Homo sapiens: one gene and its partner. The protein of the gene in region 2 interacts with the protein of the main gene of each other region in a pairwise test. Each region holds a gene or a part of one and is shown on either strand. Other genes may lie near its edges.

Evidence for each region.
Region 1: the proteins of ANKRD27 (region 2) and RAB40B interact in a two-hybrid assay, tested with the Homo sapiens proteins (one study listed by BioGRID).

Annotation. Positions count from the first base shown.
Region 1 is NC_000017.11:82,691,773-82,707,441, forward strand, and holds the start of RAB40B (ras-related protein Rab-40B), read right to left. Parts: upstream 6,927-15,669; 5' UTR 6,825-6,926; coding exon 6,683-6,824; intron 5,082-6,682; exon of another isoform or gene 4,617-5,081; intron 1-4,616. UniProt on the Homo sapiens protein: RAB40B small GTPase acts as substrate-recognition components of the ECS(RAB40B) E3 ubiquitin ligase complex which mediates the ubiquitination of target proteins.
Region 2 is NC_000019.10:32,598,343-32,613,533, forward strand, and holds part of ANKRD27 (ankyrin repeat domain-containing protein 27), read right to left. Parts: intron 10,128-15,191; exon of another isoform or gene 9,995-10,127; intron 9,491-9,994; coding exon 9,293-9,490; intron 7,613-9,292; coding exon 7,493-7,612; intron 6,083-7,492; coding exon 5,921-6,082; intron 3,785-5,920; coding exon 3,673-3,784; intron 1,709-3,672; coding exon 1,630-1,708; intron 1,435-1,629; coding exon 1,362-1,434; intron 37-1,361; coding exon 1-36. UniProt on the Homo sapiens protein: May be a guanine exchange factor (GEF) for Rab21, Rab32 and Rab38 and regulate endosome dynamics.

The DNA of each region.
Region 1 (15,669 bases), on a different chromosome or scaffold from region 2:
GCGGAAAGGCAGGGCCCTGCTGTGCCCCGACCATATCCTGGGCCAGCCTGGTGACGCCTTCCTTCTACCCCTGCCTGGAGAGAAATGGAACTTCCGAGGGGAAAGAGCGTGAACCGGGGACCCAGCTGCCAGACGGAAATGGGGTCCAGGCCACCAGGAACCAGGGGTACCAGCGTGTGTGAGGTGTGTTGCAGAACAGAAGACACTTCCCTGGGTAACCAGCAGAGCAGTGGGGCCCGCACGGTCCGTGGGCTGAGGTGACAGGCAGAGCAGTGGGGCCCGCACGGTCCGTGGGCTGAGGTGACAGGCAGAGCAGTGGGGCCCGCACGGTCCGTGGGCTGAGGTGACAGGCAGAGCAGTGGGGCCCGCACGGTCCGTGGGCTGAGGTGACAGGCAGAGCAGTGGGGCCCGCACGGTCCGTGGGCTGAGGTGACAGGCAGAGCAGTGGGGCCCGCACGGTCCGTGGGCTGAGGTGACAGGCAGAGCAGTGGGGTCCACATAGTCTGTGGAGTCAAGTTGCCGACAGGGTCCAAGATCCAAGAACTCTGCCCTGCAACTACAGACCGAGAGGAAGACAAACGCCCAGGAGGGAGAATCCAGGCCTCGCTGACCGTATCGGAGCAAAGGGAACACCTGGGCACAGCTGCCTGAGCAAGGACAAGATGCATCTGACTGCCCTGGCCAGCACAGGGCATGCCCATCCACAGAAGACAGAGTCTGACCCGGGGCACACACACAAGAGACAGGCGGGCCAACGGTGCAGACCCAGACCCACAGGCGGGCTCTCAGCTGGGACAACGGTGGCCGTGCGATGCGGGGTGGGGGTGGGGGGCATCCGACTGAAAAAAGTGTGTCTCGATCCCTGCCTCAGGCCTCACCCCAGCTGGAGGCAGCCATTCATGTCAAAGGTAAAACGATGCTTGTAGAGAACATTTTTTTTTTAAATCTGGGAGCAGCAAAGGTTTGTTCAACAGGACCCAAAGTCCTAACCACAAAACACTGATAATTTGGATTATGTTAAAATTAAGAGCTTCTGTTCATCCAAAAATACCACTGAAGGAGTGGAAAGGTGACGTGCAGATGAGAGTGGCTATCCAGGATCACACAGCCGACAAAGGACTCACAGCCAGAATCTATATTTTAAACACTCCTAGCAAGCATTGAAAGAAATTCAACCTAAATGAAAAAACAGACATAAGACTTGGGCATTTTTCTTCTTTCTGTTTCTATTTTTTTTCTTTTTTTTTGGAGACAGAGTCCCACTCTGTTGCCCAGGCTGGTGTGCAGTGGTGCGATCTCAGCTCACTGCAACCTCCGCCTCCCGGGTTCAAGTGCTTCTCCTGCCTCAGTCTCCCGAGTAGCTGGGAATACAGGTGCCCGCCACCACACCTGGCTAATTTTTTTTTGTATTTTTAGTAGAGATGGGGTTTCACCAAGTTAGCCAGGCTGGTCTCGAACTCTTGACCTCTGGTGATCCATCCGCCTCGGCCTCTGAAAGTGCTGGGATTGCAGACGTGAGCCACCAGGCCCGGCCGACTTGGGCATTTTTCCAAAGAGGAATTTCGCATAGACGTATGAAAAGGTGCTCAGTCATCAGAGAAATGCAAAGGCAAACTACACACCACAGAAGGACAGAGACAGCCCCGTGCTGAGAGGGAAGATGATGCAGCCGGGGCCTCCAGCTTTGCTGGTGGGAGCACCAAGTGAAAAATGCTTTGCGAGAATCTACTACAGGGAAACCTGTGCAGACATTTGCGTGCCTGATACCCAGCGATTCACACGCATAGGGACCTTTCAACAGAAATGCAAAGGATGTGTACTAGGAATGTTCATGGCAGAACAAACCATAATAGTCAGAAACCTGAAACCACCCAAATGCCCGTCACCCGCAGGATGGAGAATAAATCACGGTAGAGTCACAAAAGGGATGTCACCACCATGAGAATTAACACCCCACAGCCTCACACAACATGGGAGAGTCTCTTTCACATAACGGGGGCCAGAGACACAGTCACAGAAGTGCACATTGGCCAGGCGCAGTGGCTCACGCCTGTAATTCCAGCACTTTGGGAGGCCGAGGCGGGCAGATCACCTTAGGCCCGGAGTTCCAGACCATCCTGGCTAACAAAGTGAAACCCCGTCTCTACTAAAAATACAAAAATTAGCCAGGCGTGGTGGCGCACACCTGTAGTCCCAGCTACTCAGGAGGCTGAGACAGGAAAATCGCTTGAACCTGGGAGGCAGAGGTTGCAGTGAGCTGAGATCGTGCCACTGCACTCCAGCCTGGGCAACAGAGCGAGACTCCATCTCAAAAAAAAAAAAAAAAAAAAGGAAAACTCCAAAACTAAGAGAAAATTAGGAGACAAAAATAACATCTTTACTGAACTAATCAATAAGTTAGAAACAGCTAGAACAGTTTACTGAAATCAAAATTACCAACAAATAGGAAAGGCATAAGATAATCAGAAAAATTCAGGCCGCGCACTGTGGCTCACACCTGTAATCCCAGCACTTTGGGAGGCTGAGCTAAGCAGATCACCTGAGGTTAGGGGTTCGAGACCACCCTGGCCAACATGGAAACCCCGTCTCTACTAAAAATACAAAAACAAATTGGCCCAGTGTGGTGGCAGGCACCTGTAATCCCAGCTACCTGGGAGGTTGAAGCAGGCGAATCACTTGAACCTGGGAGGTGGAGGTTGCAGTGAGGTGAGATCACACCACTGCACTCCAACCTGGGCAACAGATTGAGACTACATCTAAGAAAAAAAAAATACATACACACACACATACACACACACACCTGGAAACTCAAAGAGTACGTTCATACTAAAAGTTTAACACAAACATTCAACTCTGAGACATGGTCTGGTTAAGCAGAAGAACTATGAGACAAAAAGAAAGAATTCCTCAGAAATTCATGAAGGGAAGGACAAGCCTCCACATGGGGAAAAATCAGCTGACCTCAGGCTTCCCCACAGCACATGTGAGCCAGGGGATGGTGGAATGACAGCTGCAAAGTGTTGGGGAAGAAAATAAATCTAAGAGTATTATACCCAGCCAAGATATCTCTACATTGTTCAAAGATAAAGACCATGGGCAGACATTCTCAGACACAAAAAAACACTCAGGAAATACTCGAGTCCTTCTGAAAAAACGACTGATAATGAAATCTAGGTGATTAAGAGGGACAGCACAATGAACAGAGACATAAATGGTAAAAGGACTTTGGTGAGCACTGACTGTATTTAAATGTTGAATTGATACTAAATCATTGCGGGCACTACAGCCACAATACAGAAGCAAGGGCTATAAACCTGGACAATATAAAAATAACAGCCTGGGCTACAAAACTCAGGAGGAATTGGGTGGAGGGAAATGGAGTGTGGAGTTACGAACGCCCTCATCTTTCTTTCTTTCTTTCTTTCTTTTTTTTTTTTCGAGACAAAATCTCACTCTGTCGCTGGGCTGGAGTGCAATGGTGTGATCTCAGCTCACTTCACCCTCCACCTCCTGGGTTCCAGCGATTCTCCTGCCTCAGCCTCCCAAGTAGCTGGGATTACAGGCACGCGGCACCACGCCCAGCTAATTTTTGTATTTTTAGTAGAGATAGGGTTTCACCATGTTGACCAGGCTGGTCTCAAACTCCTGACCTCATGACCCGCCCACCTTGGCCTCCCCAAGTGCTGGGATTACAGCTGTGAGCCACTGCGCCCGGCTGCCCTCACCTTTCAATAACAAGCACCTATAGTGTTTCTCAGCGAAACATGTCATTAAAAAAAAAAAAAAACATGGCCAGGTGCTGTGGCTCAGGCCTATAATCTCAGCATTTGAGGAGGCCAAAAAAGGAGGATGGCTTGAACCCAGGAGGGTCAAGGCTGCAGTGATCTGCAATCACACCACTGCACTCCAGCCTGGGCGGCAGAGAAGACCCTGTCTCTGAAAAAATAAAAAACAAAACATAATGATCTCAACTTCTTACTATTTTTCAGAATATCTTTTCTTAACTCTAAAACAAATATTTGGTAAATCAAAAACCTGCAAGGGTACACCCGTGATATCAGTTTTTTCTACAGCAGCTCAGGCCAAGTAGACAATAAAGCTCTTGATGGGATTTTTTTTTTAAGACAGAATTTCGCTCTTGTTGCCCAGGCTGGAGTACAATGGTGCGATCTCTGCAACCTCCGCCTCCCGGGTTCAAGCAATTCTCCTGCCTCAGCCTCCCGAGTAGCTGGGATTACAGACATGTGACACCATGCTCGGCTAATTTTTGTATTTATAGTAGAGACAGGGTTTCTCCATGTTGATCAGGCTGGTCTCGAACCCCTGACCTCAGGTGATCCGCCCGCCTTGGCCTCCCAAAGCCGGGATTACAGGTGTGAGCCACCGCCCCCGGCCCGGTGGGAGGTGTATTTTTAGCCTAAATCCTCCCTCCGTGTCAAGGGAAAGCCTTTATTACAAAGCATTGGACCATTGTTTTGGTTCGTCCTCAGTTCGGCATGTAGCAACCAAAAGTCACGCAGCAGAAGCATCCCCGAGCCTCCATTCAAACCAACCAGAAGGAAGTTTCACAAACATTCTGTGCGTGACCCTTCTCACACACGCCCCACGGCACTCACCTTCAATCAAACTCAACACTGTCAACCGTCTGCTCCCCCAAAACACGCACAGCTCTTAAAGCGCCATATTCGTCTGGGCGTACACGTTGTTGGGTGCTTTATTCCTGTAGCTCTGGTAGGGTTCATCCCTCACTGAGCCCAGACCCCGAGGGCACAGTGCAGACAAAGCCCTGTCCTCCAGGCGCTCAATCTCCAGCCCTGTCCTCCAGGCGCTCAATCTCCAGCCCTGTCCTCCAGGCGCTCAATCTCCAGCCCTGTCCTCCAGGCGCTCAATCTCCAGCCCTGTCCTCCAGGCGCTCAATCTCCAGCCCTGTCCTCCAGGCGCTCAATCTCCAGCCCTGTCCTCCAGGCGCTCAATCTCCAGCCCTGTCCTCCAGGCGCTCAATCTCCAGCCCTGTCCTCCAGGCGCTCAATCTCCAGGGCAGCGCTGGCCCTCGGACTTTGCCACAGCGACATCCGAACTATCTAGAAATGTGACGAATGGAAGCTTTTTGTTTTCTTTCCTTCTAATTACACTTCCACAGCCACACGTGGCTCATGGCATCCTACTGGACACCACGGTCCTAGAGACCTGCCACCGAGCGGGGAGGGGGGTAGGACATGCGGGGGCAGCGGCGCCTGGGGACAGGTAGAGACGCAGGCTCCCCTCCTGCCCCACGGAGCACACTCTGCACCCACCAGCTGCCAGAGACTCCCCCGCATGCTGCAGTTTCAGGAGGCCTCTGGGTGCTGGTCGTGAGCCCAAGCCCATCTCAGCTGCTCCCCCAAACTCTGCCCATTCCTCACCCCGTCCCCTAAGCTGAGGTGTGGCCGGGCACCTGAGTCCCACCCCACGCTCCACAGTCTCAGGCCACCCCCTCCAGCCGTGCCACACTCCCTTGGTGCTCACGCCGCCTGCCTGGAGCTGCCCTTAGGGGACAGCCTGCACCCTCTACCGAGCAGCCTCAGATCCCGCTTCCTCCCACCCTCTCCCGCTAAGTTCGTCTCTGGCAGGACCCTGGACCTGGGGCTTCCCAGACCCTTCCCAGGCCCCAGAGCTGACAGGTCCTTCCCACCAAGACTCCATCTCCACGCCCGGCTGCCCTCCTCCGCCCAGGACTCAGAGCGGGTCTCTGTTGGAAGCGTGGGTTCAGCCCCGAGGCGCGGCAGGAAGGTGGGCACAGGCTGGGCTCCTTCCACAGCCTCAGGGTCGGCCTCGTCCAAGCTGTTCCAGGGATGCGCGTGGGTGAAGGCCCCGCCTGCTCCTCACTCCCAGCCGAGGTGTTCGCCTCTGCGCGTTCCCCCTTCTCCTGGGTTCCTGCCCCCGCCTTTCTTTCCCCGGAGCCGTCCACCCCCTCGCCGGGCGCCGGCTTTCAAGCCTCAAACTTGGGGGATCCCCGGGCTGCCTGCCTGGGAGCTCTGGGCGCTCCGGCCTCCCCTCGCCCTGGAACCCGCTCTCCGGCCGCTGTCGTGGGGGGTCCCCTCTTCCGCACGCGAGTCACCTGTGCTCCTTCCTCTCCCCCGGACACGCGGGACCCCTGGCCTCGGGACCGGACCCTGGTCTCCCCTCCCCTCCGACCCACGCGCAGACCCAGCACCTGGGCGCCTGCTCGCCGCGCTCCGCCCCAGGAGCCCCGGAGCTCGCGTCCCCTCCCGCCCCTCCTGCCCCGCGGCCGAACGCGCACTTGCGGACTCGAGCCCCCGCCCCGGGTCCCCACAGCAGCGGCCCCAGGTCGGGAGGAGCCCAGCGCCCGGCCCAGCCGCGGGCTCCCGCTGCGCGCAGACTGCGGAGAAGGATGGAGACTGCGCCGCGGGGCCTCGAGTGGAACTGGGGGTGCAACAGGGACGCCGCAGCACGAGGGCCAGGGCCGGGCGGAGAAAGGCCCGCCCGCGAACCGCGCTCCTCCTCAGCCCCGCGCCCCCGGACCGGGACTCCTACCCTCCCCGGCCACGCGCCCCGGCCTCTTCCCGACCCCTGCCCGGTCTCGCGTCCCCGGACCCGGACCCCCACCCGCACCCCCTCCCCAGCCCCGCGCCCCTCCCCGGCCCCGCGCCCGCACCCCGGCACGCCCTCCGCCCGCGCTCACCCGCCGGGTGGCCGTACGGGGACTCGGCCGCGCCATCCTGCAGGCTCGCCAGGATCTCGCCCTTGCCCACGTCGCTGTCGCCCACCAGCAGGAACTTGAGCAGAAAGTCGTAGGCCCGGACCGGGCTGCCCAGGGCGCTCATCGTGACGGCCCGGCGCCCCCACCCATGCCCGGCCTGCGGGGCTGAGCGCAGAGGCGGCGGCCCGGCCCCGAGAGGCGCCGCGCGGGCCCCGAGTCCTTGCTCGCCTCCGGCCCCGCCCCGCCGCCCAGCGCTGACAGCGCGCATCCCCGCCCGGCCCCGCCATTGGTGGACCGCAGTTGCTAGGGCAGCTGCGCGCTTTCACTGGCTTGGTTGTCCGTCCATCTTACTCTCGTCACCGCCTCCGGGCTGTCGCCCACCCGCCCCTCCTGAAAGGTCGCTGTCACCACAGCCAATGGAGGCCCGGAGACGGGGCAGGGGCGGAGCCAGAACAAGCAGGAGGCGGGGACTCTGCTCCCGCAGCCAATGGCGGGGCGGGGTGGGGGCGATCAGGGGGTGGGGCCGGGTGTTTACACTCTCGCGTGCGCCCGTGAGCGCCACGAACTCGCTCCCACGGTCGTCGGGTCTGCACGCCCCGAGTCGGGAGGGGCGAGGGGCGGTGCAGGGTCCCAGCGTGGGGCCTCCCCACCTGCCCACCAGGGAGACCTCGGGTGCCTGGCCGGGTGGGGCTCGGGGTCGGTCCAGTTGGCGGACGCGGCCGGAAGGCCCCCGCAGGCCGCCTCGCCGGAGGAGTCCCTGTCGCCGTAGAATCCAGGCTCGCGGTCTCTCCCCACGGTTCATCCAGGGCCTCGTCGTTGCCCCATTTACGCGGCGTGCCTGAATGCCTGTGTGTGCACATGCGCCTGTGTACGTGTGCATGTGTTCGTGTGTGTGCATGTCTGCGTGTGCATGTGTGCCTCTGCAGATATCTGCACATGTATGTGTCTGCGTGTGCATGTGTCCCTCTGCAGGTGTCTGCACATCTATGTGTCTGCGTGTGCATGTGTCCCTCTGCAGGTGTCTGCACATGTATGTGCGTGTGCATGTGTCCCTCTGCAGATGTCTGCACATCTGTGTGTCTGCGTGTGCATGTGTGCCTCTGCAGGTGTCTGCACATGTATGTGCGTGTGCATGTGTGCCTTTGCAGGCATCTTTGCATGTGTGTGTCTGCGTGTGCTGCTTCTATGCATGCGCTCCTATGTGTGCGTGCGCTTGTTTGTGCATCCATGCATGTGTTTGCGTGCGTGCTGGAGGAGAGCATTGGGTGGGACCCTCCAGCCTTTTGGCTTCTCCTCTGCTCTAGAGAGCAAGGGTTGCCAGGCCGAGGTCTGCCCTTCGCTCTGAGGGTCTCACCAGGTGCACATTGGTTTATTTGGTGCAGAATTCAGGCAGCAGGCAAAGGGCGAGCTCCGTCCAAGAAGAAGGATAATGCCCCCACTACTTCATCCCCTCCACCCTGCGTTGTGTAGGGAACTGCTCTAGACCCCATTAGAAGTTTTTTGTGGGGGAGGAACAGAAGAGGGAGCGGAAGAAGAATTACAAAAGAGACTGAAGTCAAGATTATTATATTTGTCATTTGCATTCATTTGGACCTAGAAAATGTTTACTTTGGAATGCCAATTTAGTTTGCAACACCTGTTATTCATTGGTTGATTAGTTGCTTTAGTTACTAATGCAGCCACATTTTTTTTTTTTTGAGACAGAGTCTTGCTCTGTTGCCCAGGCTGGAGTGCAGTGATGTAATCTTGGCTCACTGCAACTTCCACCTCCTGGATTCAAGCCTCCCAAGTAGCTAGGATTACAGGCATGTGCCACCACACCCAGCTAATTTTTGCATTTTTAGTAGAGATGGGATTTTGCCATGTTGGCCAGGCTGGTCTTTGACTCCTGACCTCAAGTGATCGACCTCGGCCTCCCAAAATGCTGGGATTGCAGCACTGTTTTTTTTTAGAAGGAAGGTCAGAGGAAGAAAAGAGGATGGAAGGTGGACGCTAGAAAACTATGAGAAAGATGGCATTTAGTCCCCAGCCCCACCACTCTGCCAAAAAGAATTCAGGGGAGTTTCCTTCCCATCCCTAACCCTCAGTCTCCATGTTCCAATCAGCTGTGGGTCACATGGCTATTACCTAGTGAGGAAAGGGTACCTTCTTTTGCTCGCTCCCCACCTACACATCCAGACTCACTGTACAATAGGGGTCAGGAGGCCCCCAGCCCACCCTCGGGGTCACACCCAGCAGTCCAGCAGTGTTCACGGTGGGGCATGGAGAGGGGTGGCCAGACCACTTCCTACAGAGGACAGGTGATGGGGGAGCCCTTGTCTGCTCTTCTCCTGCCCCACAGAAGGTCCTCACCACCTCCTAGTTGTCACCTCCAAGCTGGCCTTGGCTGAGCTGGAACATGGCCACTCCCACCTGGAGGGCCAGGTAAAATAACCACGTCAGAAGAGGGCTGTGTTCAGATATGGTGTCCATCTTCTTGCCCCAAACATTGCTTTCACCAAACAGAGGTGTTTATTTCTACAGCCAAAGCAGGTTTCCTCCCACCAGGGCCCCCAGTTTCCTGAGGGACAGTCCTGTGGTGGGATACCTCTTCCTCCTCCCCAGTTTCAGTACATGTGTAAAGTCCAGGCAGAGGGTGGAGGTGTCTGGACAGCACTAGCCTACCTTCTGCCCAACTCAGAGCCAGGCTTCCAGACCTGTCCATCTCGGATCATCGGAACATTCCTCCCTGTGGCCACGCTGAAATCTCCTTGAACATCCACCCACCCATGATCTGGGGCTGCTCTGGAGACTAGGCCTCTGTGGGCAGAAGGAATGAAAGGAACATTTACTGATGCTTCTCCACGAGTAAAATGTCATCAGAAGGTGGAGGTGAGGCCGGGCGTGGTGGCTCATGCTTGTAATCCCAGCACTTTGGGAAGCCAAGGTGGGTGGATCACTTGAGGTCAGGAGTTCGAGACCAGCCTGGTTAACGTAGCAAAACCCCATCTCTACTAAAAATACAAAAATTAGCTGAGCACGGTGGCGCTAGCCTGTAGTCCCAGCTACTCAGGAGGCTGAGGCAGGAGAATTGCTTGAACCCAGGAGGCAGAGGTTGTAGTGAGCCGCTGTCACACCACTGGACTCCGGCCTGGGCAACAGAGTGAGATGCTATCTTAAAAAAAAAAAAAAAAAGGCCGGGCGCGGTGGCTCAAGCCTGTAATCCCAGCACTTTGGGAGGCCAAGGCGGGTGGATCACGAGTTCAGGAGATCGAGACTATCCTGGCTAACACGGTGAAACCCCGTCTCTACTAAAAATACAAAAAAATTAGCCGGGCGTGGTGGCAGGCGCCTGTAGTCCCAGCTATTTGGGAGTCAGAAGAATGGCGTGAAACAGGGAGGCGGAGCTTGCAGTGAGCCAAGATCGTGCCACTGCACTCCAGCTGGGGTGAGAGAGCGAGACTCCGTCTCAAAAAAAAAAAAGTCATCTTGTTTAGGCTTGTCTGCAGTCGTGAGAAAACAGGAGACAAAGGTTCACCACGTATGAAGTTTTGGTTGTCTGGGTTGAATGGAGTCCCTAAAAAGATTTATTGAAATCACACCCTCTGGAAGCTGTGACTGTGACCTTAGTTGGAAATACTTTGGTCTTTGCAGATGTAATCAGGTTAGGAGGAGGTCCGTAGGGTGGGCTCTAATCCAATAGGACCATGAAAGGGTCTCAGAGACCTGTGGGGGCCCATGGGCCCCACTGTGAAAACTGCTGCTCTGAGCCATGCCTGTGCTCCTGCCAACTCCTGCCTGTGACCATGTAGGTGTGGCCCACGAGGAGACTCCAGCAGTGAGATGTGAGGGCGTCTGCTGGGGGTTCGCAAACAGGAACGCAGACTCCAAGTCTCCTCTCAGCGTCTGGGCACTGTGGGCCCACCCACGAGCCTCCTGTCCTGTGATACAGAGCAGCTCCCTGGTGCCACCTCCAGATGGATTTTCTGTTGCTGGAAGTTAAACCAGCCTCAGTAATTCACATAATATCTATTTCAGCATTTTCCCACGGAGGGGGCACAGGGAGGGGGCATTTTTCTTTTTTCTTCTTCCAAATTTAGCTTGAAGGCTAACATGTTTTTCATTTTTAAAATAGTTCCGTCTGTGATGTGCAAACAGTGGAAATGCAACTTGAACCAGCCTAAGCACGATGTCGATTTTATGGAAGGATGGTTGGGAGTGTCTCCTGTGAGCTGGGAAGGGCTGACCGGCTGTGCTGTGGGAAGGGCCAGGTGTGGCCGGCCTGGAAGTAGCTGAGCCAGGGACCCAGTGCCGGCGAGGCCGGCCCACCTGCCGCCTTTGTTCCTCCCACGGTGCCCGCTGGTCTTCCTGTCGCTGCAGAGGGGCTCCCTCCTCACAGGAGAAAACATGGCCCCCAGGTTTCACCCCTTGGAGAGAGAACGGCCTCACTCACTCTCAGGTCTGATCCCCAAATTCCCATATAAGGGAATTCCCCAGTGGGGATCAGTGCCCACCTCCGGGTGAATCAACTACATTGGGGGTCTCATCATGCTTGGGGCCCCGCATCTCTGCATCTTAGTGCGTCCTCTGAGCGCACGGAACTGAAACCCCAGCAGATGACGCAGCTTCCAGCCGGGAGGGCCAGCGGGGGCAGAGGCAACAAGGTCACAGCTGGATGAGGCTGGTGGGCGAGGCAGAGGCCGTCGCCAGGCCCCTCTCTGCTCTCCCCTGCACTACGGGACCCCTGCACCGCTGCCCCTCACACAGTCCCCTCTTCCCTTCAGAAGCAGAGCCCCCCGCCAGTGGTTCCCACGCTGGAGCAGGGCACAGCGGCCACACCCAGAGGCTCCCATTCAGCACTGGGGGCCCAGGAATCTGCATTTGCAACGTGGTTACAGATGGTGGTGATGCTACAGCTCCAGGAACCCCACTTTGAGAACTAAGTGGGAGGGGATCTCTCCAAACATGGCTGCACCAGCGCCCACCCCCGACGGGAGACAGCACGTGCCTTCCGAGTGCTCATAGGGGAAGCCTGCGTCCGCCTTCCAGCCCTGTGGTCTCTGGTCTTCCCAGCGGGTGAGGGCCCCGGGCACTGGCTCTGCCCTTTGGGCACAGCAGGGAGGGTTCGGGGATGGCTGCTGGCCGTGGCTGGGACATAAGAGACCCAGGATGAGTGCTTGGGGCGCTTCTCCATCCACCCTTGAGACCCCTCAGGCCCCACCTTATTGTCTCACCTGACTCCCCCCAAACCCCACCTCAAACCTGACCCCCACCTGACCCTCACCTCAAACCTGACCCCCGCTCAACCCCCACCTCTCACCATACCTCTCACCCAACCCCCACCCAACTCCCACCTCTCACTCGACCCCCACCTCTCACCCAACCCCCACTCGACCCCCACCCAACCCTCACCTGACCTCTTCACACCCCCACCTCAAACCTGACCCCCACCTCTCACTCTATCCTCACCCCTCACCTGACCCCACCCGACCTGCACCTCCAACCTGACTCTCACCCAATCCTCCACTCTTATCCGACCCCCACCTGACCCCTACCCAACCCTCACCTGACCTCTTCACACCCCCACCTCTACTGCAGTCCGGCGGAGCCCACGTGCCCTACTCACACTGGCTGCGCCTCCTGGCACCGCTGAGCTCATGGCCCTGTTGTGTTCTGCTCCTGCCCCATGTGAGGGCACAGCCCACGTCTGCTCTTCTCAGCTGTTTTGCTGAGGACACCAGACGATGTGTTTCTGGAATACTCCATGCCACTCCAGCACCTGAAAAAACCAGGCCCCCGTTTTGCACGTGCGTGGCCCTTCTCACTGGGTCAGCGCCCCTGGGTCCTTCAGGACTCCACCCGGGGGTCGACAGCTCCGGCAGGAAGCCCCTCTGCCCTGGTCCCATCAGAACCATCAGTGGACACACCTGTCGCCTCCAGGGCGGGGCTGACCACAGGGCAATGCTGCCACACCTCCCCGGGGAGTGAACTTTGACTTCTCCTCCACACTGACTGTGCAGCCCTGGAAGGTTTGTAGTGAACTTGTAGAAAACGGAAAACGTGACCCTGCCTGGCCCAGCGGTTTTGGTCCTGTGGACCCAGCAGCCTGGCGTCTGACTTAGCAATTCTGTGTCACTGCTGCTTCCACCGGCTGCAGAATCGGGGCTTTCAGGAACGTCTCCAGCCAGCTCCTGAGTCTTTCCGGGCCCCCCACTCATGACCCGGGTGAACCTAACGTGCGTTCACCTCCCATTTATGTGAGGGTGACGTTCTAACAACTTGAGACCACGACCATGCCCAGGGGAGTGTGGGCTCTCTGCAGGCATCCGGCGCGTTTCCAGACACAGCTGAGGCCGGACGTGCTGGGTCAGTGAGGGCTGAGATGTGCAGCCTCGGGCCTTTCCTGGGACACTCCCCCGACCCTGCCTGTCATCCCGACATGCCCCTCAGCATTCCTACACTCATAGGAATGAGTCCTGCACTCATAGGAAATGGGGGGCTCAGGCAGGTGGGTGGTCTGTCCTCAGGACAACCCAAATCCCCGACCCAAACCTCTTCACTCCCGTCTCGTGCTCACCACCGTGCAGCCTCTTAATGAACCACCTCCCACCCCTCGGAGCCAGGCAGGGCGCGCTGTGCATGGGGATGGGTCTGAGCTGGTCTTGAGTCGGTGGAACCCTGGAAGAAGTGGCTCCGTCATTCTCGTTGCCATGGGCCATCTGGCCCTGCAGGTGTGGATCGGGGACAGTGAGGATGCAGGACTGGTCTGCAGCTGCAGAGTCCAAAGACGGGAGCCCAAAGTCCCCATCTTCAAAGACTATCACTTTGCAGGTAGAGTTCCAGTGGATTAATCTGGGGGCACACAAACATTTGGTCCATAAAAGACTATCACTTTGCAGGTACAGTTCCAGTAGATTAATCTGGGGGCACACAAACATTTGGTCCACAATAGGGCCCATGGTGGGGGGGGGACCTGGGCACCACCGAGGGTGGAAGCAAGTTGTGGAATGTGGAGCCCACCCCATTAGAGCCTGGGCAGGGAGGTGGGTGCGGCTGTCCCTCGGCCTCTGGTCCAGGGGCCCTTGGATGGCCCTCAGCACTAAGCGAGGGTGTCTCCAACCCAGCCCGTGGATGCGTGGGGCCGAGGGTTCTTGGTTGGGGTGCACCTGAGCACTGTGGGGTGTTGGGCAGTGTCCTGGCCCCCGTACGTTAGATGCCAGCAACACTGCCACCTCCTACAACAATCAGAAATGCTCCCAGAATTGTCAAAGTGGGGGGTGCTGCCCTTCCCAACAGTTGAAGAGCACTGGTTGACAGAAATTTGATTTCCATGTGGCAGCCTCTCTCCCGAGAGCCTCATCCTGTCCCCACACTGCAAGGCGTGTTCCCAAGGTTGGGCTCCGTCCTGGTGGCTCCCGCCGGCATCTCCTGGGCAGCTGTGACTGCTGTGTCCACCGGGCCGGGGTGTCTGCCGTAGCCCAGCATGCAGTGGAGAGGATGGCCACGGGGACAGCGGGGCTGGGGGCAAGGGAGGATCCAGAAGCATCCGGCCTGGGGCCGACGGGTAGTGACCATCTCAGGGCATCCGAGGTTCACCCACGTTCGCCTCCCAGAAACCCTGAGAGGTGGAGGTTATCATTCCTGCTGCTGCCTGAGGAAACAGGGACTCAGAGAAACCGTGCTGGTCACTGTCCTGCCTCGGCCTCCCTCGCTGGAGCTGGTCAGCACTGCAGCGCAGCCCCAGCCTTGTTTGGTTTTTATTTTATTTTATTTATTTTGAGATGGAGTCTCGCTCTGTCTCCCAGGCTGGAGTGCAATGGCGCGATCTCGGCCCACCGCAACCTCTGCCTCCTGTGTTCAAGTGATTCTCCTGCCTCGGCCTCCCAAGTAGCTGGGATTACAGGCATGAGCCACCACACCCGGCTAATTTTTGTATTTTTAGTAGAGACAGGTTTTCTCTGTGTTGGCCAGGCTGGTCTCGAACTCCTGACCTCAAGTGATCTACCTGCCTTGGCTTGCCAAAGTGCCGGGATTACAGGCATGAGCCACTGTGCCCGGCCTGTTTGGATCTTTAAATGGTGGTAAAATGTAGGCGACATGAAACTTACTATCACCCTTTTCCAGTGCAGCGTCCAGGGGCATCAAGCACATTCACACCGCGGCGCAGCCGTCACCACCCTCCATCTCCAGGTCTTCTCCATCTCCCCAGACAGAACCTCGGTCCCACCAAATGTCAGCTCTCCGTCCTCCCCTGACCCCTACAACATCATTTACGTCCTGTCTCTACAGATTTGACAACTCTAGGGACCTCGTATAAGTGGAATGACACAGTATTGTCTTTCTGTGGCTGGCTTATTTCACTGAGCATAATGCCCTCCAGTTTCATCCGTGTTGTAGCGTGCGTCAGAAGCGCCTACGTTTTAGGGCTGGGCGCAGTGGCTCAGGCCTGGAATCTCAGCGCTTTGGGAGGCCAAAGTGGGCAGATCACTTGAAGTCAGGAGTTCAAGCCCATCCTGGCCAACATGGTGAAACCCCATCTCTACTAAAAATACAAAAATTAGCTGGGTGTGGTGGCTCATGCCTGTAATCCCAGCTACTCCGGAGGCCGAGGCAGGAGAATCACTTGAACACAGAAGGCAGAGGTTGCAGTGGGCCGAGATCACGCCATTGCACTCCAGCCTGGGAGACAGAACAGGACTCTGTCTCAAAAAAAAAAAAAAAAAGAAGAAGGACTCCCTTTTTTTTTTTTTTTTTTTTTTGAGACGGAGTCTCGCTCTGTTGCCCAGGCTGGAGTGCAATGGCACAATCTTGACTCACTACAGCCTCCATCTCTCGAGTTCAAGAGATTCTCCTGCCTCAGCTTCCCAAGTAGCTGGGATTACAGGCACGTGCCACCATGCCCTGATAATTTTTTGTAATTATTTTTTCTTTCTTTCTTTTTTTTCTTTTTTGAGACGGAGTCTCGCTCTGTCACTCAGGCTGGAGTGCAG
Region 2 (15,191 bases):
GTTATTCTGTCTCAGTGTGACACTTTGCCTCCCTGGCTAAAGAAAAAGTACATTTTTAACCGTTGACGTCCTCACTGTACTGGAAGCCACAACCATGACAGTGACAGCTGCCCCTTAGTGCCTAGTGTCACATAATGTGCTCAGTGCTTGACAGGCATAATTTCAATTCTCACATCCCTGTCGTGGTAACATGGCATGTGCATACTACATGTGTCAGAGTAAATGTTTCACTTGTTTTCACAATCTTTATGACTCTAGGAGGCATGTACTACTATTGTTATCCCCGTTTTACACCTGAGGAAACAGGATCAGCAAAGTTAAGCCACCTGCCTAAAGTCCTACAGCTAGCAAGGGAAAAGCTAGCACTTGATGGAACTCAGGCAGATTTCAACGATTCTGGCTTTCCCACAAAGCAGCAGGTCTCCTAGCAACACCACATAAGACTAAATATGGTATCAAAATTAGTCATGTTAATTAAAATCATTTTAATTATCTAAAACAATTTAGAACTTTTGTGTATTTGTTCCAACAAGCCTATGCTACATATGCTATAAATTCTCATCAGCAACAAGGAAAGCTGTGGTTCTGAGAAGAATCACTGTCTCCGATCACAGGTTTTCAATCAAGCTTCTGAGTGATTTAAAAATGCAGTAGGGTCCGGGCACGGTGGCTCACACTTGTAATCCCAGCACACTGGGAGGCCAAAGCGGGCAGATCACTTGAGGTCAGGAGTTCAAGACCAGCCTGGCCAACGTGGTGAAACTGCGTCTCTACTAAAAATACAAAAAAATTAGCCAGGAATAGTGGCACATGCCTGTAATCCCAGCTACTCAGGAGGCTGAGGCGGGAGAATGCTTGAACCCGGGAGGTGGAGACTGCAGTGAGCCGAGATCGTGCCACTGCACTCCAGCCTGGGCCACAGAGCAAGACTCTGTCTCAAATAAATAAATAAAAAAATGTAGTGGGAAGATGGCCACATAAAGAATTGTCTGAGCAACTGTACACCATACTTGGAGACATCATTTACCCATCTATATACAAACTGTCGTTTTCTTTCTTTGGTGATTAAAACCATAGTGAAATGTGGGATGTTTCATCTCCTATAAGCACCAAGACCTGTGGTTTCCCACACATGTAACACTTTCCACTCCTCTGCTCAGAAATGTACTTTTAGTTATAACAATCAGTGAAGTCTGTACTCTACACTGTCCCATGAAATAATTCCAGTTTTAACTGCTGCTAACTCATACGGCGCACGGAATAATGAAGATGACGATCAAGGAGACGTGTTTACCATGGATTACTTTTGACAAAGCCGGGCTTTAGAAAATATGATTAAAAGCCAGTGTTTAATAACTTACCTCATGCAAAGAACCTTCGGTTAAATTAGGGACACTTCTATCTCTTGCCATAATCTCCCTTGAAGTCTTTCCCCTAAAACCCAAAATAAACGAAAATAAATATTTGGGACAGTGGCATGAAACACTCTGGTTGGCCACAAGGTGGCAGCATTTTTGACATTAGTAGGTGCAGATTTGTCCATAACCAATTACAATTGAAGCAGCTTACGTGCAGCTTGGAGTAAACTAGGGGCAAAAGCACAGAAATCAACTTGAGTTTCATACTCACTTAAACTGACCAGCTGAGTGGACAAAGTAAAACTGTCTTGTAAAAGGCTCATCTGGTAGATCATACAGTTTTGAGTTCCCTGTAGATAAAAAGATAAACATCTAAAAACTTCAAAAACAGTTGTAAAGATTATTTTAAAATTACAGCACAGACACAATCTTTCTATTCTCAGATTTACAAAATTTAGAAACTGAAGCACTGAATTTGCTTAAAGAAACACAGCTAGTACCTATTTATAACAGGTTGAGTATCTCCAATCCAAAAATCTAAAGCCTAAAATGCCACAGGCTGGGTGCAGTGGCTCATGCCTGTAATCCCAGCAGTTTGGGAGGCCGAGGTGGGCATATCACTTGAGGTCAGGAGTTCAAGACCAGCCTGGGCAACATGGAGAAACCCCATCTCTACCCAAAATACAAAAACTTAGCCAGGCGTGGTGGCACGCACCTATAATCCCAGCTACTCAAGAGGCTGAGGCAGGAGACTCGCTTGAACCCAGGAGGCAGAGGTTGCAGTGAGCCGAGATTGCACCACCACACTCCAGCCTGGGCGACAGAGCAAGACTCCATCTCAAAAAAAAGCTACAAAATCCGAGACATTTTGAACTCTTTGACTTCATGCTCAGAAGAATCTGATTTCCTGATTTGGATCCTCAACCAATGAGTATAATGCAAATATTCCAAAACCCAAAACACTGCTGGTCCCAAGCATTTGAGATAGGGGGTAGTCAGCCTGTATTATGAGAACCCCCATGAAATAGAAAAATAAAACCTTAACTCCCTTAACTCCCCCAGCCACAACCAATTACGGTGAGACAGTCTCAGGGTTATCGAGATATGTGAATGGGTTTATCCATATTATTGTATTGCATTATTGCATACCTCACTGGATAATATTTCATATTGTAAATTAAAAAAAAAAGTAGAACAAGGACCCCTTCTAAACTTTTTAAAAAGAAGAAAATACTTCAGTCTCACTGCTGTTCGGCAACTGCTGTTTTAATTATAATCAACCTCCGTACACGTACAAACTTAAAAAAAAATCTTGAGGCCAGGCGCGGTGGCTCACACCTGTAACTCCAGCACTTTGGGAGGCCAAGGAGGGCGGATCACTTGAGGTCAGGAGTTTGAGACCAGCCTGGCCAACATTGTGAAACCCTGTCTCTACTAAAAATACAAAAATTAGCCAGGCATGGTGGCACGTGCCTGTAATCCTAGCTACTCGGGAGGCTGAGGAAGGGGAATAACTTGAACCCAGGAGGCAGAGGTTGCGTGAGCTGAGATTGCACCACTGCGCTCCAGCCTGGGTGACAGAGTGAGACTCTGTCTCAAAAAAACTAACTAAATAAAAAATCTTGGTGGCTCACACCTGTAATCTCAGCACTTTGGGAGGCCAAGGCGGGCAGATCACGAGGTCAGGAGATGGAGACCATCCTGGCTAACACGGTGAAGCCCCTCTCTACTAAAAATACAAAAACAAAATTAGCTGGGCGTGGTGGCTGGCACCTGTAGTCCCAGCTACTTGAGAGTGGGAGGCAGCTACTTGAGGCAGGAGAATGGCGTGAACCCAGGAGGCAGAGCTGGCAGTGAGCTGAGATCACACTACTGCACTCCAGCCTGGGTGACAGAGCGAGACTCTGTCTCAAAAAAAAAAAAAAAAAAAAAATCTTGAAAGGTAGCATTTACCCTGGATGTCCAGGAAATGCCCAGAACACCTGACTTTGGAACATGAGGCATGAAAGAAACTATCCCAGAGACTGTTCCCCATCTCCATAGGCAGACACCTGAACCTTCAAGGTAGTGTTGACAGTTTCTATCCTATTTCCTCAGGAAACATCATTACCATCAACCAGAAAACTAGTAACAAAAAAAGCTTACCCATAGTCTGATAAATTGGGAGGTAACATACATTTCTTTGGTGCCTGTATCTCCTCCAGGCATGATTATAATTACACTTTACATATACAATTAAATGAACACCAGCAACTACTCATGAATGTCTAAATATACCCAACTTGAGCGTGACAGAAAGAACGTAAACTCTTACATTTTTTCCTGATCTTAACAGTGACATACTCCTTGCGGTCAGTTTCAGCCACATCATCTAATGAAGCAACACAGCTTGGTACCACCTGAAGCAATTCCATTATTTTTGAATTCTGCAATTTGAAAGGGAAAAGGAACAGTAATGTTTTTATTCTTTTTTAATAGGTTATTATTTGTTTTTGATCTAAATGTCAGTATTAGTGTGACTGGGCAGAAAAAGCTCAGAAATAATTACAAATGGAGCTTGGAGGCCATAAAGCCCAGTGGTAAAAGCAGGCCTGCATGGGGAGCCCGGCTCTGCTTTTACCACTGGGTAAAAGCTCTGCCCTCTCTGTGGACTCCACGCTGGGGATTCAACCACTCCATGCAACCAGCTCAACCATAATAAGATCTACTATCATATGCTTATCATGAGGCTGTTGAGGGCCCCCATATAGTAAGTACTCATTGAAACACATTAATTAACTGGGCACGGTGGCTCACGCGTGCAATCCCACCACTTTGGGAGACTGAGGTGGGAGGATTGCTTGAGCCCAGGTGTTCAAGACTAGCCTGGGCAACATAGCAAGGCCCTGTCTCTATTTAAAAATAATAAAAGGCCAGGCGCGATGGCTCACGCCTGTAATCTCAGCACTTTTGAGAGGCCGAGGCGGGTGGATTGCTTGAGCCCAGGCAGTCGAGACCAGCCTGGCCAACATGGCAAAACCCTGTCTCTATTAAAAAAAAATTAGCTGGTCATGGTGGCACACGCCTATAGTCCCAGCTACTTGGGAGGCTGAGGTTGGAGGATCATCTGCGCCCAAAGGTTAAGGCTGCAGTGAGCCAAGATTGCACCATTATACTCCAGCCTGGGCAACAAATTGAGACTCTGTCTCAAAAAATAATAATAATAATAAAATTAAAAATTTTAAAAACCAAAAAAAATTCAACATAATCATTTAAGAAAGTACTAAACTGAGAGTTTAAAATATTTCAATTCTGTCACTGAAAATTAATATAAGGAGGCCAGGCACAGTGGCTCACGTCTGTAATCCCAGCACTTCGGGATGCCAAGGGAGGCGGATCAGTTAGGTCAGGTGTTCAAGACCAGCCTGAGCAATATGGTGAAACCCGTCTCTACAAAAAATACAAAAATTTAGCCAGGTGTGGTGCCACGTGCCTGTAATCCCAGCTACTCAGGAGGCTGAGGCACGAGAATCGCTTGAACCCAGGAGGCAGAGGTTGCAGTGAGCCAAGATCACGCCACAACAGAGCAAGACTCTGTCTTAAGAAACAAAAAATTACTCTAAGGAGCCTGTCCATGGAGTGGATTGATGGTGATGTTAGCTTCTCAGTTGTGTCACTTAACAGCCTACTCGCTGTCTATCTTGGGTAGAAAACAAAAGAAAGACTCAGCAGGAAAACAGGAACAGAAAGAGCTGCCGCTCGCCAGGGGAAAAGGACCCTTCCCCGCCGCTCTCCACGCAAGCATCCACAGCACTGGAGAAGGCAGTAGGCCAATAATCACGATTCCTACAGGACTCAAGGACTTTTACTTTCATTTTTTTGAGATAAAGTCTCTGTCACCCAGGCTGGAGTGCAGTGGCACAATCTCAGCTCACTACAGCCTTGACCTCCTGGGCTCAAGCGATCCTCCCACCTCAGCCTCCTGAGTAGCTGGGACTACAGGCATGCACCCCTATGCTCGGCTGATTTTTTGATTTTTTGTAGAGAGGGGGTCTCACTATGTTGCCCAGGCTGGTCATGAGCTCCTGCGCTCAAGTGATCCTCCTTCCTTGGCCTCCCAAAGTGCTGGGATTACAGGCATGAGCCACTGTGCCTGGCCTCAAGGAGTTTTAAATCCACCAACAAAACAAACCTTCTCCATCGTGCTGCTAAGACAACGGCTGTGTTCACACTGTGAGGATGGTGACACCAGAACATCATGACTTGCTCCTTCCTGAGTGCCTGACTCTATGTAACTACCGGACCACAGCCCTACTGCTAGCTGAGGGGGGGGCCCCTCCACTCAGGCCTTTGAAAACCACCTGTGAAAAGAATGATTCCTGGTTCCCAGAGCACCACCTCTGACCAGGAGACTGAGGACCAGCCATCTACCCACGCTGTGGACTTCTGGCACACCAACTACGCCCAGCCCGGCGATGCCAAGGGCCAGGTGTTGCTATTTTAGATCCAGCTTAAACAAAGGGATCCAGAGGGAGCTGTGAGGAGCTCAGGATTCCCTCGGCTCTTCGACCCTCTCCACCTACCTGTTCAGCACAGTCTACAGCCGTGCGCTGCCGCTTGTTCAGCACCTGAACTGACGCTCCGTGGAGCAGAAGCAGCTCTACCACGAAGACGTGCTTTTCAATCACAGCCTCGTGCAGCGCTGTGTTGCCCTTATTGTTAGAAGCGTTAATGGAGGCCCCGTGCTGGAAAGAGAAACCACACGATCAAAAGGAACGCTACGAAACGTCAGCATGGAATCTGGCTGTGGGTATACAGGTATTCGCTATAAAACACATTGTTTTTTTTATGTCTGAAAGTTTCCTTAAAATTTGGGGAGGAAAAGTAATACTGAGAAAAAAAGATTTATAGACAAAGAGTTCGCTGCAGCATTTATCCTAATAGCAGAGAAAACAGAAGCCACTTAAATGTACAGAGCAGAAACAGGTTCAAAAAAATCACTATGGTATATCCATAGTTATGCAACCATTAAAAATCAAAGTTTGAGTAAATAAGTTTCTACATTAAATAACATTAAGACAGAAAACAATACTTGGGGCCAGGCACAGTGGCCCATGCCTATAATCCCAGCACTTTGGGAGGCAGAGGCAGGTGGATCACCTGAGGTCAGGAGTTCAAGACCAGCCTGGCCAACATAGTGAAATCCCATCTCTACTAAAAAAAAACACCAAAAAACAAAAAAATTAGCTGGGCATGGTGGTGGGCGCCTGTAGTTCCAGCTATTCGGGAGGCTGAGGCAGGAGAATCGCTTGAACCCCGGAGGCAGAGGTTGCAGTGAGCTGAGAGTAAGCCACTGCATTCCTAGGTGACAGAGCGAGACTCCATCTCGGAAAAAGAGAAAACAATACTTGGCGAGGCCCCGTGGCTTACACCCGTAATCCAGCACTTTAGGAGGCCAGTGCAAGAGGATCGTTGGAGCTCAGGAGTTTGAGACCAGCCTGGGCAACATAGTGAGACCCCCATCTCTACTAAAAACAAACAGCAAAAACTAGCCAGGTGCAGTGGTATGTATCTGTAGTCCCAGTTAGCTGGGAGGCTGAGGCACCTGAGCCTGGGAGACTGAGGCTGCAGTGAGCTGTGAGGGTGCCATTGCATTCCAGCCTGGGCCACAGAGCAAGACCTTGTCTCAAAAAAAAATTAATAAATAACACTGAAACTATACACATTTGTCAAAAGTCCACCATAATGAGTTTCCCTTGAGTAGCACAGTCATGGACAGGTTGGTTTTTCCCTACTTCTTTAAGAAATTCTAATGCATTCACATAACCTTTTTCAAGAGCAGCAGGGACAGAGGCGGCCACTCAGCCCATGCTCAGGTAACAGCGTGACACATTCCCGGTCGGTGAGGTGAGACCCAAACCCTTGGCAAAAGCAGCGTCGGAGCCCTTGAGACCGCATCCCAGATGCTGGGGCACCATCTGTTCCCATCGGAGAACCCCGTGTGGGAAGACGCACGCCCTGCTCCTCTCCCCAGAGGCCTGGGGTTGATGGGTGGCCGGGCCTCTCCATCCCCAGTGCGCTGCGGGGGTCGCTGGGTGGAGGCGCCCTGTTAACTGGCGCAGGTGTGTAGAATGAGGACAGGAAGGGGCCCTCACCTGTAGCAGCAGTGCCACAAGCTCGTGATGGCCACCGGAGCAGGCGTAAATGAGGGGCGTGTTTCCACTGAGGTCCTTCTTATTGGGTTTTGCATTCGAATCTAACAGACACTTCACCACCTGGGCCAGAGAAGGAAAACGTGCAAACTTAATCAAAATTTCTGTCATTTCCTGCCAGAGAAAAATTATGAAAAATAAATAAATAAATAAATAAAATAAGAAAACAAAGTTTCTGGAGAGAAATGCTCAAGTTTGATATTCTTTTGACTTGTCTCTGAGCTTATTTTTTTGTTGTTGTTCTTTTTGGTTTTTCTTTCTTTTTTTTTTTTTTTTTTCCAGACAGAGTCTCGCTCTGTCGCCCAGGCTGGAGTGCAGTGGCGTGATCTTGGCTTACTCCAGCCTCCGCCTCCCAGGTTCAACTGATTCTCACGCCTCAGCCTCCTGAGCAGCTGGGACTACAGGCGCCTGCCACCACGCTTGGCTAATTTTCTGTATTTTCAGTAGAGACGGGGTTTCACCATGTTGGCAGGGCTGGCCTCGAACTCTTGACCTCAGGTGATCCACCCGTCTCGGCCTCCCAAAATGCTGGGATTACAGGCATGAGCCACCACGCCCAGCCGTCTCTGAGCTTATTGAGAAGACTTTAGACTCTCAGGAGAAAAGGGACCAGGTGAAGAGGGGAGGGCTACCATCTGCTGCGGGGCTGCTCTGTGCGGTTGAAGCGCAGGGTGACAGTGATCTCACTTCACCCGATGTGCTGGGCGACAGTGATCTCACTTCACCTTTCTATCCTTTCTACCTCAGGGAGAGCTGCAATCGCCACTCCGAATTTACAGATTAGGAAAGCCATGCCTGAAGCTCTATGCTAGGTGTTGGCGAGAGAGATGCAAGACCTGAAATATGGCTCCTTTCTTTAAAAAGTTAACAGTAGAACTGATAAAGGAAAATGAAAAAATATACACACAGTTTTCCTTAAAGAAAAGCAGGGCCTGGTGCTGTGGCTCATCCCTGTAATCCCAGTACTTTGGGAAGCCAAGGTGGGAGGATCGCTTGAGCTCAGGAGTTCAACACCAGTCTGGACAACATGGTGAAACCCCATCTCCACAAAAAAAAAAAAAAAAAAAAAAAAAAAAAAAAAAAGAAAAATTTATCTAGGTGTGGTGGTGCACGCCTGTGGTCCCAGCTACTAGGGAGGGAGGCTGAGATGGGAGGATTGTTTGAGCCCAGGAGATTGAGGCTGCAGTGTGAGCTGAGATTGCACCACTGCACTCCCACGCTCCAGCCTGGGAGACAGAGCAAGGTGATGTCTTAAAAAAAAAAAAAAAAAAAAAAGGCAAAAAACCCCAGCACTTTCAAAAAGTTAATCACTCCAAAATTCAAAATTCTTCCTTGAGCCCCTCTATGGGGCCCTGACTGTTCTTTATGAAGTGCTGAACTGTTTGGCCCAGAGCAAGGCACTGTCGGGGTGTAAAGGTGGTAAGATGACCATGGGGACAGTGCTCGGTGGCCACCACACGAGCTCAAGAGCCAGATCCTGCTGGGGGCAAGAATCAGAATGACAACCTCGGTATCACCCAGATGGGAGTGGCAGTGGGGCAGGGACTGGCTCCACCCCCAGGGAGCATCAAGGCTCTGTGCTCCGAGGCTGAGTGGCCTACCGTGTGCACCTCAGAATCTCAGGGCTCGGGGGAGCAGTGTCCTCCAGGGTAGCCACCAAACCCCTGCAGCGTTCCTACCAAGCACAAGGTCCTAGCCCAAAGCAGACACCCTGCTCCACCACCCCCAACACACAGCCCGAACCTGAAAGTGGCCCTGCTGGCAGGCCAGGTGGAGCGGGACGGCTTGGTCTGCGTTCCTGGCACCTGCGTTGGCCCCGTGCTTCAGCAGGAGGGGGATGAGGTCCGCCCGGCCGTGCAGGGCGGCGACATGCAGCGGGGAGGAGCCGTCCTGGCTGGTCACGTTCACACCAAGCCCACTGGCAGGAACCTTCGCCAGCCTCTGGGAAGCGCAGAAGATGGAAACACAAACGTCATCAGTATTGAAGAAACTGGGCTGGAGTGATTGGCACCATGTGCCCCCCACAGCTCCCACACACAATGCGGGATCATGGCGGGATCCAGGATGGATTCCAATTTGTTTAGAAGTATGTGGCATGCCAAAAAACAACTTCCTTTTTTTTTTTTTGAGACAGGGTCTCACTCTGTTGCCCAGGCTGGAGTGCAGTGGCACCACCATCATGGCTCACTACAGCCTCGACCTCCTAGGCTCAAGTGATCCTCCCGCCTCAGCCTCCCAAGTAGCTAGGTCCACAGGTGCAAGCCATTGTGCCCAGCTAATTTTTTTTTTTTTTTTTTTTTGTAGAGATGGGGTCTCACCAGCTGGCCCAGGCTGGTCTTGAACTCCCAGGTTCATGTGGTCCTCCCACCTCAGCCTCCCAAAGTGCTGAGACTGCAGATGTATGCCACTGTACCTGGCTAATTTCACTTTTTTTTTTTTCACCAGGGCTGTAGAGCCTCCAAATTTCCTTTGAGGGGCATGGCCACAGCCCCGCAAAGGCGACGAGATTCACTTGCTGTTTGCACCTCTGTTTAAACCACCGCTATAAGAAACAGTGATTCTTGGGTTTAGGTGAGAATAATTTTACTTTTTGATGATTAAAAATGTTACCTCTTTAAAAAAAAAAACTGTATGCTAAATTAAAGGCTGAATTTTATTATATGTAAATTATATCTCAAAAATAAAAAAGAAGCTGGAAAACACACATGTGCACATACATACACACACTAAATGAAATACCCTGCATATTTATCAGAATGGCTAAAGTTAAAAACTCAAGGCTGGGCACAGTGGCTCATGCCTGTAATCCCAACACTTTGAGAGTCCGAGGTGGGCAGATCACCTGAGGTCAGGAGTTCTAGACCATCCTGGCCAACATGGTGAAACCCCGTCTCTACCAAAAATACAAAAATTACCCAGGTGTGGCGGCACCTGCCTGTAATCCCAGCTACATTACAGGCATGCATTGGGCTGTAGAATCGCTCAAACCCAGGAGGCGAAGGTTGCAGTGAGCCAAGATCACACCACTGCACTCCATCCAGCCTGGCTCACTGCAATCTCTGCCTCTCCGGTTCAAGCGAATTCTCCTGCCTCAGCCTCCCAAGTAGCTGGGATTACAGGCGTGTGCCACCACACCTGGCTGATTTTTGTATTTGTAGTAGAGACAGGGTTTTGCCACGTTGGCTAGGCTGGGCAACAGAGCGAGACTCCATCTCCAAAAAAAAAAAAAAAAGTCAAAATACCAAATGTTGGCAGGGATGTGGAGCAACTGGAATGCTCAAACCCTGCTGGAGGGAACAGAAACTACTCCAACCACTTTGGAAAACTGGCAGTTTCTTTTAAGGTTAAACATATCCTTACTATATAATCCAGCAATTATACTCCTAGGTGTTTACCCAACAACGTATATATCCACACAAAGGCCTGTAACTCCTAGGTGTTTACCCACCAACGTATATATCCACACAAAGGCCTGTACACAAATGTTCACAATGGCTTTATTTACAAATCCAGAAGCAGGAAAACTACTCAGATGTCCATTAACAGGTGAATGAAACAACAAATTCTGGTGTGTCCACCCAATCAACTACTATCCAGCAATGAACTCCTGATCCAACATGGGTCTCAAAAATATCCTGAGTCAAAGAAGGCAGACATGAAAAGGGACATGCGTTAGAATTCCACTTACAAAAGATTCTCGAAAGTGTTAACTAATCCATGATGATGAAAAGCAGGTCACGGGTTGCCTGGGAGAGGCGATGGGGGAATGGGGGGGTCATAGTGGGGGGGAAGGCAAAATCTCACAGGAAACTCTTGCAAGTGAGGGAAACGTTGTGTATCTTGATGGTGGTGATGGTTTCACAGGTTTATATATCTGTAAAACTTGCCAAATTGTATACTTTAAATACATATGCTTTATGTAAATATAAATTATATAAATTATAATGTATATAATTATATTTCAATAAAAGATTTAAAAACAAATTCTAAAACACCACTGGAGACCGGGTGTGGTGGCTCACGCCTATAATCTCAGCACTTTGGGAGGCTGAGGCAGGAGGATCGCTTGGGCCCAGGAGTTCGAAACCAGCCTGGACAACACAGCCAAGACCCTGTCTCTACAAAAATAAAAAAAATAGGCCAGCAAGGTAGCTTACGCCTGTAATGCCAGCACTTTCGGGAGGCCGAGGCAGGTGGATCATGAGGTCAAGAGATCGAGACCATCCTGGCCAACATGGTGAAACTCCGTCTCTACTAAAAATACAAAAATTAGCTGGGCATGGTGGCGCATGCCTGTAGTCCCAGCTACTCAGGAAGCTGAGGTAGGAGAATTGCTTGAACCCAGGAGGCAGAGGTTGCAGTGAGCCGAGATGGCGCCACTGCACTCCAGCCTGGCGACAGAGCAAGACCCTGTCTCAAAAAATAAATAAATAAATAAAATAAAATAGCCCAGCATGGTGGTACGTGCCTGTAGTTCCAACCATTTGGGAGGCTGAGGCAAAAGGATCCCTTGGGCCCAAGAGTTTGAGGCTTCAGTGAGCTATGATTGCAACACTGCACTCTGGCCTTGGTGACAGACCAAGACCGTCTCTAAAAAAAAAAAAAAAAAAAAAGTTTAGGCCAAGCGCAGTGGCTCATGCCTATAATCCCAGCACTTTGGGAGGCTGAGGCAAGCGGATCACTTGAGGTCAGGAGTTTGAGACCAGCATGGCCAATATGGCAAAACCCTGTCTCTACTAAAAATACAAAAATTAGCCAGGTGTGGCGGCATGCACCTGTAGTCCCAGCTACTCGGGAGGCTGAGGCAGAAGAATGTCTTGAACCCGAGAGGCAGAGGTTGCAGTGAGCCAATATTGCACCACTGTACTCCAGCCTGGGCGACAGAGGGAGACTCCGTCTCAAAAAAGAAAAAAAAGAAGTAATACATTAAACACCACTGGAGGCCTGGTGTGGTGGCTCATGCCTGTAATTCCAGGACTTTGGGAGGCTGGGGCAGGAGGATCACTTGAGCCCAGGAGTCCCAAGCTGTAAGTGAGCTATGATTGTGCCACTGCACTCCAGCCTGGGTGACAGAGTGAAACCCCATCTCTAAAAATTAAAATAAAATAAAATAAAATAAAATAAATCACTGGGCTAGAAGAGGATGGGGGGAGTGGATTTTCATTTAATCACAGACATGAAGCAGTTTAGTGGTGTGTCTTTTTGAGAAATCACAAAAAGAGAATAAGAGGTTTTAGAAGTACAGGGAACCTAAGACTTCACCCAATTGAGTTCCACAGTATTTTACTGTGTAATTAAAGTGGGAAAACACAGGGAGGAGAAAAATGGCAAAAACAGCAGCAGCGGAGATGCAGCAATCTCGCCACACACAGGTACTGAGGGCCCGAGGGCTTCATCACTTCCCACCAGATGCTAGGGAACACCATCTGCCTTTCTTATCCTGTGTTTTCATAGCCACCCACCTCGGGGAAATTGTGTTCTGGACCATGTGCATCCAGCAGCAGGGGGCCAGGTCAAAAGGTGCACATCCCCAGTGTACATGTTACCTCACAGCTGAAAAATGTGTGAGGGAAAACTTTAGTCATTTTCAATATCCTTAGAGTCACCCACGCTGAAGTTCTTTTTAGAAATGGTAAAATTATCCTACAATATAAAGGCTAACACCACTCTATCTATTTTATAAAGTCAAATCCATTTTCTTTTTTTTGAGATGGAGTTTCACTCTTGTTCCCCAGGCTAGAGTGCAATGGCACGATCTCGGCTCACCGCAACCTCCGCCTCCTGGGTTCAAGCGATTCTCCTGCCTCAGCCTCCCGAGTAGCTGGGATTACAGGCATGCACCACCACGGCCAGCTAATTTTGTATTTTTAGTAGGGATGGGGTTTCTCCATGTTGGTCAGGCTGGTCTCGAATTCCTGACCTCAGGTGATCTACCCGCCTCGGCCTCCCAAAGTGCTGGGATTACAGGCGTGAGCCATCGTGCCCGGCCAAATTCATTTTCTATTTTCTATTTTATATTTTTAGTTTCTTAGAGACAGGGTCTTACTCTGTTGGCCAGGCTGGTCTCAAACTCCTGGCCTCAAGTGATCCTCTAACCTCGGCCTCCCAAAGTGTTGGGATTACAGGTGTATGACACTGAGCCCAGCCTAATTCTCTTAGTATGGGACATACACATCTATAATTAGATAGCTAACACATGAATGCATGCTATGTATGCAATACCATTTACAACTGCTTGAAAGAAGATGAAATACTGAGGTGTACACTTAACATGACACAGGCAGGATCTGTATGCTGAAAAAAAATCACAAAATGTTGATGAAAGAAGTCAAAGAAGGCCTAAATACTTGGAGAGATGTACCATGTTCATGAAGACTCAACATACGTTGAGTCATATGATGTTATTTCTCCCCAGTTCATCTATAGGTTTAATGTAATTCCTATCAAAATCCGAGCAAGGTATTTTGTAGACATACAAAAACTAATTCTAAAATTGATATAGCTCAGACCAGTCTGGGTACTATAAGAGTGAGTAAGTTAGTAAGTAAGCAATAGGTAAATAAATAAATAAAATTTACATGGCAAGGCACAGGCCATAGAATAGCTGAAATATTCCTGGCAAAGAAGAATAAATTAGGAAGAATCATTCAATCCAATACTGAGGCTTACTACACAGCATCAGTCATCAAGACAGCGCGGTACTGGTAGGATGGGCCCATAGATCAATGCAGCAGAACAGAGAACCCAGAAATAGATCCACACAATCTATAGCCAACTGAGGTGCAAAGGCAAGTCACGGGAGGAAGGAGAGGCTTTTCAACAAATGGTGCTGGCGCAAGTGGACACTTGTAGGCAAGAAAAAACAAAGAAGAACCTCAACCTAAATCTCACACTTTGAGTAAAAATTAACACAAATTGGATCATGGACTTAACTATAAAATATAAAATTATAACTTAAAAAAAACAGGAGAAAGTTGGAAATCTAGAGCAAGGCAAAGAATTCTCAGACTTGACACCAAAAGTATAATCCATAAAAGGAAATACTGACAAATGAGATGTCTAAAAACCTTTTTCTCTGTGAAAGCCCATGTGAGGAAATTATAGACAAGCTACAGACTGAAAGAAAATGTCTGCAAAGCACGTATCTAACAAATATCCACATATCTAGAATATATAAATTCAACGATAAAGCCAAAAACAAACCAATTAGAAAATGGGCAAAACAAATGAACAGACATTTCACTGAAGAACATATACAGATGGCAAATAAGCCCATGAAAAGCTGTTCAACAGCATCAGCCATTAGAGAAATGCAAATTAAGGCCACACTGAGATAGTACTACACACCTATCTGAATGGCTAAAACAGAAAATAATGACCACACCCAGTGCTGGGGAGGACGAGGAGGAACTGGATCACTCATACATCGCTGGTGGGCATGTAAAATGATACAGCCTGCTTGGGAAAAGACTGTCAGTTCCTTATAAAAATGAACCATGGAATTGCCATGCAATGACCATATGACTCCACAATTGCACTCTTGGGCACTTATCCTAGAAAAATGAAAACTTGTGTTCTTACCGAAACGTCTACTCTAATGTTTGTTCGTGGCAGTTTTATTGGTAATATTCCCCAAACTAGC